4 linked regions of the Homo sapiens genome follow. The protein of the gene in region 1 purifies or fractionates together with the protein of each later gene. This does not show direct contact. Each region holds a gene or a part of one and is shown in the gene's direction. Other genes may lie near its edges.

Evidence for each region. The genes of interacting proteins can lie anywhere in the genome.
Region 2: the proteins of ARHGAP17 (region 1) and PALS1 purify together in Homo sapiens (affinity purification with mass spectrometry; 2 studies listed by BioGRID, with this or other methods). This does not show direct contact.
Region 3: the proteins of ARHGAP17 (region 1) and OPA1 fractionate together in Homo sapiens (co-fractionation; one large-scale study listed by BioGRID). This does not show direct contact.
Region 4: the proteins of ARHGAP17 (region 1) and NIPSNAP1 purify together in Homo sapiens (affinity purification with mass spectrometry; one large-scale study listed by BioGRID and IntAct). This does not show direct contact.

The regions. Positions count from the first base shown.
Region 1 is NC_000016.10:24,935,370-24,938,869, reverse strand, and holds part of ARHGAP17 (rho GTPase-activating protein 17), read left to right. Parts: intron 1-3,230; coding exon 3,231-3,400; intron 3,401-3,500. UniProt on the Homo sapiens protein: Rho GTPase-activating protein involved in the maintenance of tight junction by regulating the activity of CDC42, thereby playing a central role in apical polarity of epithelial cells.
Region 2 is NC_000014.9:67,303,935-67,307,434, forward strand, and holds part of PALS1 (protein PALS1), read left to right. Parts: intron 1-3,500. UniProt on the Homo sapiens protein: Plays a role in tight junction biogenesis and in the establishment of cell polarity in epithelial cells.
Region 3 is NC_000003.12:193,599,708-193,603,207, forward strand, and holds part of OPA1 (dynamin-like GTPase OPA1, mitochondrial), read left to right. Parts: intron 1-3,500. UniProt on the Homo sapiens protein: Dynamin-related GTPase that is essential for normal mitochondrial morphology by mediating fusion of the mitochondrial inner membranes, regulating cristae morphology and maintaining respiratory chain function.
Region 4 is NC_000022.11:29,560,614-29,564,113, reverse strand, and holds part of NIPSNAP1 (protein NipSnap homolog 1), read left to right. Parts: intron 1-2,251; coding exon 2,252-2,322; intron 2,323-2,467; coding exon 2,468-2,608; intron 2,609-2,911; coding exon 2,912-2,943; intron 2,944-3,285; coding exon 3,286-3,380; intron 3,381-3,500.

The DNA.
Region 1 (3,500 bases):
ACCCCCAGATTTCAGTCTTGTAGGGCAGTTGATCCATGAGTCCAAGGTGGAAAATAAGATGGTAGCTTTTCTTTTTTCTTTTTTTTTTTTTTTTTTCTGAGACTGCGTCTTGCTCTGTTGCCCAGGCTGGAGTGCAGTGGCATAATCGTAGCTCACTGCACCCTCCGCCTCCTAGGCCCAAGCAATCCTCCTACCTAAGCCTCCCAAGTAGCTGGGATTACAGGTGCTTGTCACCATGCCCAGCTAATTTTTTTATTTTTGTAAAGATGGGGTAAACATAGATGCCCTAGGTTGCCCAGGCTGATCTCGAACTCCTGGCCTCAAGTGATCTTCCTGCCTCAGCCTTCCAAAATGCTGGGATTACAGGCATGAGCCACCATGCCTAGCTGGTAGATTTTCTTAAAAGGCTCTTTTAGTTGCTTAACCTTTGGATAAGCCACCTGGAGTGGGCTGCAAATGGATAGCAACTTTTAAGAAAAGTCACCTTGAACTTGAGGTTTTTTTTTTTGAGACAGTCCCACTCTGTCGCCTAGGCTGGAGTGCAGTGGTGCAATCTCGGTTCACTGCAACCTCCGTCTCCCGGGTTCAAGTGATTCTCTTGCCTCAGCCTCCGGAGTAGCTGGGATTACAGGCACACACCACCATGCCAGGCTAATTTTTTTGTATTTTTAGTAAAGACAGGGTTTCGCCATGTTGGTCAGGCTGGTCTCAAACTCCTGACCTCAGGTGATCCCCCTGCCTTGGCCTCCCAAAGGCTGGCATTACAGGTGTGAGCCACCGCGCCCAGCCATAACTTGAGATTTTTATTTAATTGACATTAATTCAGTTCTCCACACTGATCCAGGCAGATGACCACCAGAGGCTACTTCAGGTGGCATCTCTTGTGGTTTGGAACTGACAGCTGCTTAGCTTTGCATACATGTGTGCCAAAATTTTTGTTGTCATATGTTCTGCATTGGCCATCCACAACACACCGAATGATCATATATGAAGTAAAATAAATGTGCACAAAACAAGGACAGGCTGTTTATCCACACGTTTATTTCCCACACAGAGAGATGAATTTGCCTTGAAAGAACTCCTTTCTCATCGTCCTTGGGATGAGCAAGGGAGAGCCTTGTTGTGTGTGAAGCTGCTCGTGAGATAGGAATCTTGTTTCACCATTAAAACTGAATGCTGAATGCTTTGTGCATTCCTGAATTCCATTTTCTTCACCTTGGGAAAGTTTACTTTGGGGTTAAAAAAAATTAAGACTTCAGACTTCTTAGGGCTTCCCGTGCACCTCATAGGCTGCACGTTAGCTTGTCAATAATTGTGCCCTATGCATGTACTTGTTTTGGTTTAAATTTTTTTGTTTGAAGGAAAAAAGTCTAAGCAAATTCACTTATTTTCTTTTTCTTGGTTTTGTTTTTTATTTTTATTTATTTTTATTTATTAATTTATTTTTTGAGACGAAGTCTCGCTCTGTTGCCCAGGCTGGAGTGCAGTGGTGCAATGTTGGCTCACTGCAACCTCTGCCTCCTGGGTTCAAATGATTCTCCTGCCTCAGCCGCCGGAGTAGCTGGGATTACAGGCATGGACCACCATGCCTGGCTAATTTTTGTATTTTCAGTAGAGATGGGGTTTCACCATGTTTGCCAGGCTGGTCGCGATGTCCTGACCTCAAGTGATCCACCTGCCTTGGCCTCCCAAAGTGCTGGGATTACAGGCGTGAGCTACTGCCCCGGCCTGTTTTTTGTTGTTTTTTTTTTTTCAGACAGGGTCTTGCTCTGTCACCCACGCTGGAGGGCAGTGGTGTGATCATGGCTCACTACAGCCTTTTAATCTCCCAGGCTCAAGCGATCTTCCCACCTCAGCCTCCCAACTGGGACTATAGTAGTGCATCCCCATGCCCAGCTAATTTTTTTAAATTTTTGTAGAGACGAGGTCTCACTGTGTTGCCCAGGCTGGTCTTCAATCCTGGTCTCAAGCAGTCCTCCCTCCCTAACCTCCCAAAGTGCTGGGATTACAGGCATGAGCCACCATGCCCAGCCAATTTACATATTTTCATTTCCTTGTGACATTCCATTTGTTTAATCAAGGCTAAATGTATTATTTAAGACAATAATTAGTCTTAATGCAGAAGGACAAATGGAATGTCAGTTACTTTGCTTTTTTTTTTTTTGAGACAGCATCTCGCTCTGTCAGCCAGGCTGGAGTGCAGTGGCATGATCTTGACTCACGGCAACCTCCACCTCCTGGGTTCAAGCGATTCTCCCACCTCAGCCTCCAGAGTAGCTGGGACTACAGGCATGCGCCACCACGCCTGGCTAATATTTGTATTTTTAGTAGAGACGGGGTTTCACCTTGTTGGCCAGGCTGGTCTTGAACTCCTGACCTCAAGTGATCCATGTGCCTCAGCCTCCCAAAGTGCTGGCGTTACAGGCGTGAGTCACTGTGCCTGGCCTGCTGTTTGTTTTTTATACTGTATTCTGTAGGTATTTTTATGTACATTACACTAATGTTATTCACTCTTTGGTGACCTTGACAAAATGGAGCTACAGAGTTTGGTATAAAAAGTTCTGGGCCAGGAAACAGGAAGCCTGAATTCTGATCTCTATCCTGCTGCTACCAACTCTGGACTTCGAGTAGTCATTTAGCCTCTGAGTTCTCCTTCTTCAGTCCAAGTTATTGATAATAATCAAGCCCTTTATCATTTAGGGTCTTATTTTGCCATGGCTTTTGCTTAGTTTTGTACAGTGTATATGTCAACATGTAAAAGCCATTTCATGGTATTAAGTACTGCCCAATTTAAGTCCAAACGCAGTAGAACTGAAAACTCCGCATTGGTTGCTTTGAAATGGTCTCTCTGATGATACTGGAGTGGCAGAGTCGTTGGAGTCCAGTCTGATGCAACGAATCTCATAAAATAAATAGTCCTATAGTCCCGGCTACTCAGGGTGCTGAGGCAGGAGAGGATTGCTTGAGTCCAGAAATTTGAGACCAACCTGGGCAACATAGCAAGACCTCATCTCTTAAAAAAAAAATGGCACCAAGTAAACATTAGCTCTTTATATGGCACCAAGTAAACATTAGCTTTATAAGCCCAGTGTGAGCTAGTTAGAATTTCAGATCCTTTTCCTGCCTGCCGAAGTGAAAACTCTGCTTGGAATCTTATGTTTTATGTGCAGTATGTTCAGATTTTCTAGCTGGGATTGTCTGACGTCTAACTTGACTTTTACTCCTCTTAGTCCTCCCAAACCGAAGGACCCTGTATCTGCAGCTGTGCCAGCACCAGGGAGAAACAACAGTCAGATAGCATCTGGCCAAAATCAGCCCCAGGCAGCTGCTGGCTCCCACCAGCTCTCCATGGGCCAACCTCACAATGCTGCAGGGCCCAGCCCGCATACACTGCGCCGAGGTAAGCAGCCACCGTCCTCCTTGCCCTCAGGGAAGCCTGTGCAGACCTCCTTAAGTTAGTGCAAGGATTCAGATGGTGAGGTTTGTGGCCAGATCTTTTC
Region 2 (3,500 bases), on another chromosome or scaffold:
TTTTTGTATTTTTGGTAGAGACAGGGTTTTGCCATGTTGGCCAGGCTGATCTTGAACGCCTGGCTTCATGTGATCTGCCTGCCTCGGCCTCCCAAAGTGCTGGGATTACAGGTGTGAGCCTTCACATCCAGCCAACTCTGCACCTTTTTAAAATAAAAAGTAGAAAATAATTTCAGTTTCAGAATTTTTTTTATAGTTATAGGTGGGTTTACTTAACTTAGTATGGAGTAGGGCAAGTGCTTTTTAAAAAGTATGTGTAACCCTTCTTTTAGAGTATATTGTTCTGTTAGACATTTACTCAGCTAGATCTGTTAAAAGTCAGTCTCCATTACCATACAGTCAAGCAATTGCATTCCAAAGTATATATCCAAAAGGACTGAAAACATATATTCACATAAGAATGTCTACATGAATGTTCATAGCAGCAGCATTCACAGTAGCTAGAAAGTAGTAACAACCCAAATGTCTGTCAGGTGATGAATCAAAGACAAAATATGTATGTATGATGGGATATTATTTGATAATTTTAAAAGCCTACAGTACTGATATATGCTACAACATGGATGAACCTTGAAGAAATTATGCTGAGCGAAGGAAGCCAGTCACAAAAGGCCATATATTGGTTCATTTATATAAAATGTCCAGAATAGGTAAATCCATAGGAGAGAAAGCAGATTAGTAATTCCTTAGATGTGGAGATGAGGATTTATGAGGGAATGGTGATTACTAATCAGTACCAAGTTTCTTTTTGAGGGCATAAGTATGTTTTAAAATTGTTTGTGGTGATAATTGTACAAATCTGTGAATAAACTAAAACCATCCAATTGTGTACATGAGTGAATTGTATATGAATTATATATCAATAAAGCTATTTAAAAATGAAACTTTAAAGTGTTGAATTAACATGGAAGCTTGATGTATTGCATCTGTTATTCTTAACTTTAAAGCATAGCAGTTTGAGAAAGAACACAGTTTCATTTTTCTCTCAATATTTCATCACAGGTATGCTTTATAGTTTGGCTATCATTCCATGTTTTCCCTTAATTTTTTACAGAACATACGGAAGTTGATATTGTATCTGCAACCTACTTTATGTTTACAGTTTTTTTGCAGGAAGAGAAATGAGGAAATATAGTTTGTCTTTGAATTTAAACAGCTTGATTCTCTGTGCATTGTGCTGTTCCCTGTATCTCTTCTGTGTATAAGCCCTGAACTTCAAAAGTAGCTCTGCAAACTGAGGAAACATAACAGAGGAGGGTTGGAATATACTCCTACTTACTTATCTACAATAATCCATCCCTCCTGAGTAAATGACTTTTGTCTTTTGAGAATAAATGTCAGAAGTTAAGACATTTTTTTTTTTTGAGGTGGGATCTGGCTCTATTATCCAGGCTGGAGTGCAGTGATGTGATCACGACTCCTGCAGCCTTGACTGCCTGGGCTCAAGCAGTCCTCCTACCTCAGCCTCCCTAGTAGCTGGAAACACAGATGCATACTACCACATCCGGCTAATTTTTTTGTACTTTTGGTAGAGATGGCTTTCACTATGTTGCCCAGGCTAGTCTCGAACTCCTGAGCTCAAGTGGTCCACCCGCCTCGGCCTCCCGAAGTGTTGGGATTACAGACGTGAGCCACAATGCCCAGCCAAGACATGTTTTCTCAACATTTTTTTCCTGCTATTCATGCAGAATCTGGAATTCTGTAAAAGAAAAGCCATTTTTTTCATGGATAGAATTAATCGAAGTGTTACATTGAAACTTGTTGATTCTCGTTGTATGCAAAACAGAATATCAAAGCAATTAACTTACACAGATTGTTTCAACCTAAGAATGAAATAACTTACTTATCCTTTAGTGGTTATTTAACCCCCAACTTTCATTATTGATTAAGAATAAAAGGCTGGTTTAATCTGAAGACCAAAGGAATATAGGTTCATGGTGAACAATCTCTGGAACTACTTAACTGGAAAATGAAGTAGCTTAAAAAGGAAGAAAGTGGGAGAAAGAGCAAAATGCCACATCTATCCCTTTTAAAATGGAGCTTTTTCTGTTCTTTTTACTTGGAGTCTCACTCTTGTCACCGAGGCAAGCAGTGGCACCATCTGGGCTCACTGCAACCTCCGCCTCCCAGAGTCAAGCAGTTCTCCTGCTTCAGCCTCCCTAGTAGCTGAGACTACAAGTGCATGCCACCACATCCAGCTAATTTTTGTATTTTTAGCAGAGATGGGGTTTCACTATGTTGGCCATGCTGGTCTCGAACTCCTGACCTCAGGTGATCTGCCCGCCTTGGCCTCCCAAAGTGCTGGGATTACAGGCATGAGCCACCGAACCCGGCCTATTTTCATATTTAAAGTAGGGATCTTTTCAGAATAGAGTGATGTGCAGTATTTTTCTTTTCCTTCTTTTCTCTTTTGTTTTTTGTTTTTTTTGAGACAGAGTCTTGCTCTGTCGCCCAGGCTGGAGTACAGTGGTGCGATCTTGGCTCACTGTAACCTCTGCCTCCTGTGTTCAAGCATTCTCCTGACTCAGCCTCCCAAGTAGCTGGGATTACAGGCGCCCGCCACCATGCCTGGCTGAATTTGTGTGTGTGTGTGTGTGTGTGTTTGTGTATTTTTAGTAGAGACAGAGTTTCACCATGTTGGCCAGGCTGGTCTTGAACTCCTGACCTCTGATGATCCGCCCACCTTGGCCTCCCAAGTGCTGGGATTACAGGCATGAGCCACCATGCCCAGCCCCTTCTTTTCTCTTTTTATTATGAATAACTCTCAATTGCAATATATCTTGCCAAGTTTTGTCAGACCTAACTGGCTTAAAATGAACTGCTATTATTAAAGCTCATTGAGGCTGTCCAGAAAGGAAACAGTAATAGGAAATCATAATCTTGGTTGACATATGCAGAATAATTATCTATGGAATTAATAATCTAAAGAAATTAGAACCAATTTATTGAGTATCATTATGGTACAGGTCAGCATCTGTTGATAGCAGCAGCAGCAGATATCTTCCTGATTTATGTTTTGTGATGTTAGAAATGTGTTTAAGACAGATATACAAAATAAGTGTTATCTGAAACCCCTATATAATGACTTGTTGAATTATGATGTCATGTATGGCAATAATAAGCTGTGTCAGAAGTGCTCTCTTGAGTTCTTAAATTTCTTTTGTATCACACATAGCAATCAGTGGCTGCTCTTTCAGTAGCAGAGGGCAAGAGTCTTGGCACCTCTGTATTTCACTTCCTGAGTAACTGGCACATTTGATCTAGGAAATGCATACATTATTCAAACGTACAGTTTCCTTCTCTCGGCCTTTTTAAAAAAAGGAAGGATTGGATTTCCCAGACTAGTTTGTAAAACTTTAGATTATTCTATACTATAATAATATGTAGGGAGGGCATAATAGACTTTTATCTGAATGGGACTTTTTCATTTAGTCTAATGCCATAATCTAACAAGGAGTGTATTTAAATGAAGAAGGATCACATCGCTTATTAGTTACAGA
Region 3 (3,500 bases), on another chromosome or scaffold:
ACCTTGGGCAAAACATAGAATTAAAAGAAAACTTCAGACAAGTTAAATTTGATGGAGTTTAATTGAGCAAAGAAAAAAAATGATCCACAAATTGGGCAGTCTCCAGAATCACCGCAGATTCAGAGAGACTCCAGGGGTGCCTCGTGGTCAGAACAAATTTATAGACAGAAAAGGTAAAGTGACCTACAGGAATCAGAATTGAGACATAGAAACAGTGAGATTGGTTACAGCTCGGCGTTTGCCTTATTTGAACGCAGTTTGAACACTCAGCAGTCTATGAGTGGTTGAAGTATGGCCGCTGGGATTGGCCAACACTCAGCTGTTATTACAGATGCATACTACTAAGTTAGGTTTTCGATTTTGTCTGCCTATTTGAGCTAGGTTACAGTTCGTCCACAAGGACTCAAATATAAAAGTACGGAGTCCTCTTCGGGCCATATTTAGTTCGCTTTAACAATTCCCCCTTTTGGTCAGCCCCTCAATTTAGAGAGATTGACCAAAACTTTAGGCGTTGACACCACTCTCTGTCACCATCATAAAGACTTATTTGGTCTCAGTGTGGAACTCACAAGTCGTCTTTAGTTTCAGTATGGAGTCTCACACATCTTCTTTGGTGTTAATAGGGAATTCACAAGTTGCAACTTTGTACCAGCTAAATGATTCTTTATGTTCTTGCTGATCCAGTTGGAGTAAGACCATTCAACTGTCAATGTACAGCTGCATACAAAACATTTAAGACTTGAGAGTATACAGTGCACCAAGGGGACTATTATTATGACTGTTAAGAGGACACCGTCAAAATGCTAAGGTGTACTCCTTAATAAAAGTTCTTATGAAATGAACTGAACCAAATCAGCCAAGTTAAGGTTCAGACAATATAAGCAGTTCAGCAGTATTGGGGTCTGATTGGTCAGAGTCTTCAGTTGGAGTATGATAGTGATTAAGGATCATAGTTCGCTGTAAAGTAGCTTGACTTAAAGAGGTGCTCGTTTTCATTGTTACCTTGTTAATACAAGTCATAATAACTTGAAAACCTGCTAGAAGAGATATAAAGATTAGAAACCCTTGGAAAACCCAAGCTTGCCATTCACCACTTAGGATGCCTGCAAACCAACTGTTAGTTGCTCCTATAAACATATCGTGGGTTCCTTTCTCTTGAGAGATTTCTTTATTGTACTTGGTGGCAGTGTCTAAGGAAACAGCAGTATCAGCCACCTTTTAAATTAAGCTTTTTGTAGTAACAGAATCAGGGGAGGGATTAGTACAAAATTCAGTTTTGTTTAACACCAAACATAGGCCTCCAGCTTGAGCAAAAAGAAGATCTAAGACTGCATGATCTTCCATTAAGTGTTTTCGTTGAATATGTATGTTGTCATGTGCCTTTCTGAGAGTAGCTTCTACCCATCTGAAACCCTGGGAGGTCTGATTGGCTACCAAATCCAAGAATTTTCCCAATATACAAATTAGTTTTAAATTCCGTACAAATGGTACTTCACTACCACCAAGAGTGAGCCCCCAGGAACCCCAGTGGAATCTTTCCCCGGTAGAAACTAGCTTATCCTCGTCTATTTCGAGGCTAGTGCTAATTTCAGTTATTGATCATTTTGGCCTCCAAGTATAAGGGCTATCATGAGAATTTTCAGGGGAAGCAATTCGAAAGGCAGGAGCAGGCCAGGCCAGATAACAAGAACCAAACCAACCAAGGAGGCAGAACAGAATATGCAGATTCTCCACAGACCCAATAGAGACCCTCAGGGGTTGGAAAAGGGGGCCACCTAGTTGTATTTGAGCAGGGATCATTCAGGTTTGTTCGACCATGAATCTGTAGCTCCTGAATAACATCCAGTGGGAAATTTACTTTTCTATGGCCCCTTTGTAGTGTGTTGTAAGGGTGTATAACCACATCTAGTAAAAAGAGACCCTACTGGATATACAAGCAATCACTTGTACTAACATAAGTAATTCCCAAATCTTGAGTATGTGATGCCTGCAAGCACAATATACGTTTTGTAGGCATCATTTGGATTTGTTTTTTATATTTGGTGTGATCGACTTTATCAGTTGAAAAAGAGTGTTGTTTTTAGTGAGTGTAGGAAAGCAAGTACTAGTGATGTTTAGAGTATCAAGAATAGCTTTCCATTCTTCCCTTGGGGTTTCAGGGTGACTCATTGGGAAACGTGGAGGGGCACTGGCACCCTTGGAATCATTTCCTGATTTTTTGGCATTAGCCCACAAACCCAACAGTTACCCTGGTTTTGTGCTAGAGCATAAGCTTGAGCTGAAGCCATCCACTGATTATGGTCCCATGGATTTTCATGTAAGGAAAAGGAAAGGATTAGGGAAAAAAATAAGGAAAACAGAAAAACACATAAGGCTTTCATGGTGGTAGAGAAGTCTTGATCTGTGATCTAGGGAAAGCTGTCTGTAACCAGGATGCTGTCTGCTTCTGGGAAGAGATTTCCCTGGTCAGCTTTACCTTAAAGTCTCCAACGGGTATATAGTACCAGGAGTCTGAGGGGGCCCTTTTGAATTGTGAGATGTGGACCCATGGTTCAAAGCCCTGAAGCTTCTCTGCACTGTGGGTGGTAAGAAGGACTTGGTATGGTCCCATCCAACGAGGTTCAAGAGTGATCTTCTTCTGATGTCATTTCCGGAAGGCCCAGTCTCCAAATTCCAGACCATGGAGGGTTTGATTGTCCTCAGTTGGTGGATCTTGAAATGCTTCCTTTACCTGGTGGAAGTATACTTTGGCGTAATACATTAAAGCCTTGCAGTATTTAGTCATATCAGAGTTTAAGAGAGCAGGAGAAGCATGAGATGCTATTATTAGGGACATGGGCCTCCCAGTGACTATTTCATAAGGGGTCAATTTATGTTTTCCAACAGGATTGAATCTGATTGCCATTAAAACCAAAAGGTAGTACCTTTGGCCAAGGCAACTCAATTGATTCAGTTAACTTGGACAGTTTCAGTTTTCAAATGCCATTTGTTCTTTCAAGCTTTCCTGAAGACTGAGGGTAATAAGGACAATGGTAATGCAACTGTGTCAGTAACACCTTATTTAACTGCTTTATAACTTGCTCAGTAAAATGAGTTCCTCTATCACTGGAGACTTTTAGAGGGATCCCCCATAAAGGAAAAACATTTTCTAATAATTTCTTAGCTATGGTCACAGCATCAGCTTTCCTACATGGGAAGGCCTTTATCCAACCAGAAAACATGCAAACTATTACAAGAACATACTGATACCCCATTGAGGGTGGTAACTGAATGAAGTCCATCTGTAAATGTTCAAATGGTCCATCAGGTGGTGGAAATATACTGCCTCTAGTTTTTCTGGGATTATGAGTTTGACAAGTCAAACATTGATTATAAGCCATTTTAGTAATGTCAGAATAGTCACCCCACCAGTATTTTTTCATAATTTGGATCACTTTGTCTGTTCCATGATGAGCTGTGGAGAGCTTTCAATAATGGAAGCTTCAAAGATTCAGGAAGGA
Region 4 (3,500 bases), on another chromosome or scaffold:
GGCCCAGCCATGCTCCCAGGATGGCAAAACTGTTCCTTTCTTCTCCTCCACAATTAATTAGGTTTCTTTGTTACTAGGAATTAGATTAGTTTCCTGGGGTGGCCAGCATACCGCAAACTGGGTGGCTTAAAATAACAGAGGTTTATCCTGTCACAGTTCTGGAGGCTGGAAGTCACAAATCAAGGTGTTGACAGGGCTGTCCTTCCTCCTAAGGCCTTAGGGGAGAACCCTTCCTTGCCTCTTCCAGTTTCTGGGGATTGCTGGAAACTCTTAGTGTTCCTTGGCTTGTAGACTTGTCATTCTAATCTCTGCCTCCCTCGTCACATGCTGTTCTCTCTGTGTGTCTCTGTCTTCACATAGTGTTCTCCTGTGTCCAGATCTCCCACTTCTGATAAGGACACTAGTCACTGGACTCAGGGCTCACCTAGTATAATCTCATCTTAGGTCGATTATACCCACAGAGACCTATTTCCAAATAAGGTCACATTCTGAGGTTCTGGGTGGGCATAAATTTTGAGGGGACATTGTTCAACTCAGTGCAGATAATATGATTTTTATTTATTTTTATTTTTATTTATTTATTTTTTGAGACGGAGTCTTGCTCTTTTGCCCAGGCTGGAGTGCAGTGGTGCGATCTCAGCTCACCACAACCTTTGCATCCCAGGTTGAAGCGATTCTCTTGCCTCAGCCTCCTGAGTAGCTAGGATTACAGATGTGCATCACCACGCCCAGCTAATTTTTGTTTTAGTAGAGATGGGGTTTCGCCAAGTTGGTGAGGCTGGTCTCAAATTTCCGACTTCAGATGATCCACCTGCCTCAGCCTCCCAAAGTTGATTATTTATTTACTTGAGACGGAGTCTCACCCTGCCACCCAGGCTGGAGTACACTGGCACAATCTTGACTCACTGCAACCTCTACCTCCTGGGTTCAAGCGATTCTCCTGCCTCAGCCTCCCGAGTAACTGGGATTATAGGCATGTGCCACCACACCCAACTAATTTTTTTTTTTTTTTTTTAAGATGGAGTCTCGCTCTGTTGTCCAGGCTGGAGTGCAGTGGCATGATCTCGGCTCACTGCAAGCTCTGCCTCCTGGGTTCATGCCATTCTCCTGCTTCAGCCTCCCGAGTAGCTGGGACTATAGGTGCCCGCCACCACGCCTGGCTAATTTTTTGTATTTTTAGTAGAGACGGGGTTTCACTGTGTTAGCCAGGATGGTCTCGATCTCCTGACCTCGTGATCCACCTTCCTCAGCCTCCCAAAGTGCTGGGATTACAGGCGTGAGCCACCGTGCCCGGCCCAGGATTTTTATAAATTCTAACAGTACAAAGAGTTTTCCATGCAAAGTAAGCTTCCCTCCTGCCCGAGGCCCCACAGGCCTCCATTCTGTGTCCCAGGGGCATCTACTGTCAATCTCTTTTTTTTTGAGACGGAGTTTCGCTCTTGTTGCCCAGGTTGGAGTGCGATGGCACAATCTTGGCTCACCGCCACCTCTGCCTCCCAGGTTCAAGTGATTCTCCTGCCTCAGCCTCCCAAGTAGCTGGGATTACAGGCATGCGCCACCACACCTGGCTAATTTTGTATTTTTAGTAGAGATGGGGTTTTTCCATGTTGGTCAGGCTGGTCTCCACCCACCTCAGCCCCGCAAAATGCTGGGATTACAGGTGTGAGCCACTGCGCCTGGTCTACTGTCAATCTCTTAAGTCGCCATTAAGAGGTGATGCATAAATTAGCATCTCTGGATGTCCTTGCCACCTCAACACATGAGGTAGCATACCACACATCCTCTTCTGTTCCTTGGTTCCTTTTTTCAATTCACTGTCTTGGAATGTTCCATATCAGCCCATCAGTTCTCCCCTGTTCTTTTGTTCAGCTGCCCCTCTAAGGCCTGGTGGTCTTCCTTATGCATGCCACTGCTTCCAGGGTACAGGACACATCTGATCTTCTTGTTGCTATTTAAGGAAGGTGGGGTGGGAACATTATTCCCATTTTCAAGATGAGAACATTGAGGCCTAGAGCAGTCCAAGGCTGCTGGGCAGAGCTGGAGCTCAAATCCAGGTCTCCTAGACTTGTGTCTAGGGTCATCCCCTCCCCAGCATGGTCTTCCACCAAGGCAGAGGGAACTCAGGGAGTCTTGCTGCTACAGGGAACCAGGCCACCCCGCCTCCCCCGTCCCCACCACTTAGCCAACCTTGAGGAGGTCATCTGCTGGGGGTCCCAGCAGCTCACTGACCTATACCTCTCACCCCCAACAGTGCACCTGTGGCGATTCTCAGGTGGCTACCCAGCCCTCATGGACTGCATGAACAAGCTCAAAAACAATAAGGTATGTTAGTGTCCACTCAGCACACCTCTCTGGATGTGGGATGCAGCCCAGCCCTGTTCTGGGGACTACTCTGCTACCCCATGAGGCACACTGTCAGGATGGAGCGCACTTCCTGGTAGCCATGCCTTTACCACCATGCCCACAGGAGTACCTGGAGTTCCGAAGGGAGCGGAGCCAGATGCTGCTGTCCAGGAGAAACCAGCTGCTCCTCGAGTTCAGCTTCTGGAATGAGCCACAGCCCAGAATGGGTCCCAACATCTATGAGCTGAGGACATACAAGCTCAAGGTGCCTCCCTCCGACAGACCCCCTCCTGCCCCCCAATTTCCCTGCTGCAATGCTGCTTTGCAGCTGCCCCAACACCTAGACTGGGGCTTCTGGCTTCTCCCTCCCTATGGGCTCAGAGCAGAGTTGTATACACATGTGTGCAAACATGCACACCAGGTGTGTGTCAGGGCCTGCGAATGAGGCCAAATGGCCGCTGCAGCTTGGGAGGTGGGGAGACAGGGCAGTTTCCCTTCCTTGCCAAGCTGTGATGCTATGAATCTGAGGTGGGGGCTCATTCCCATCATCCCTTTGGTTCTCTTTCAGCCAGGAACCATGATCGAGTGGGGGAACAACTGGTAAGTGGCAGCACCAAGACTGGGGTTGGGGGAGGCGTACCCTGCTCACCTGCCCCACCAAGGCCCCTGGTGGGCCACCTTTTCCAGGGCCATATCACAGGGAACTCTTTACCTTCTGCCCCTCATGGATCTGGGAGAAGGATCCAGCCAGGAGGTGAGGATCTCCTAGAAGGTTGTGACCCCTCCGTTGGTAGAACACCCCGCCATCAGTCCTTTCTCTCAGCATCCCGGAGGACCGTGGGTTCCACCTAGGCCCCTCCTGTGAAGTGTGGCCAAGGAATCAGCCTCAGTACCCTCTGCACCAGCCCTGGCTTCTGCCCCATATTATTGTGCCTTCTCCAGGGCTCGGGCCATCAAGTACCGGCAGGAGAACCAGGAGGCAGTGGGCGGCTTCTTCTCACAGATAGGAGAGCTCTACGTGGTGCACCATCTCTGGGGTAGGTTGAGGACCTTCCAGGAGCCTTTTGTTAGTTCTCTTTCTCTGTCATCACTCTCTGTAGCCAATGGGGTTGTATTAGTGTCCTCATAGAACTTAATGTTCTAGCAGGAGACACTAT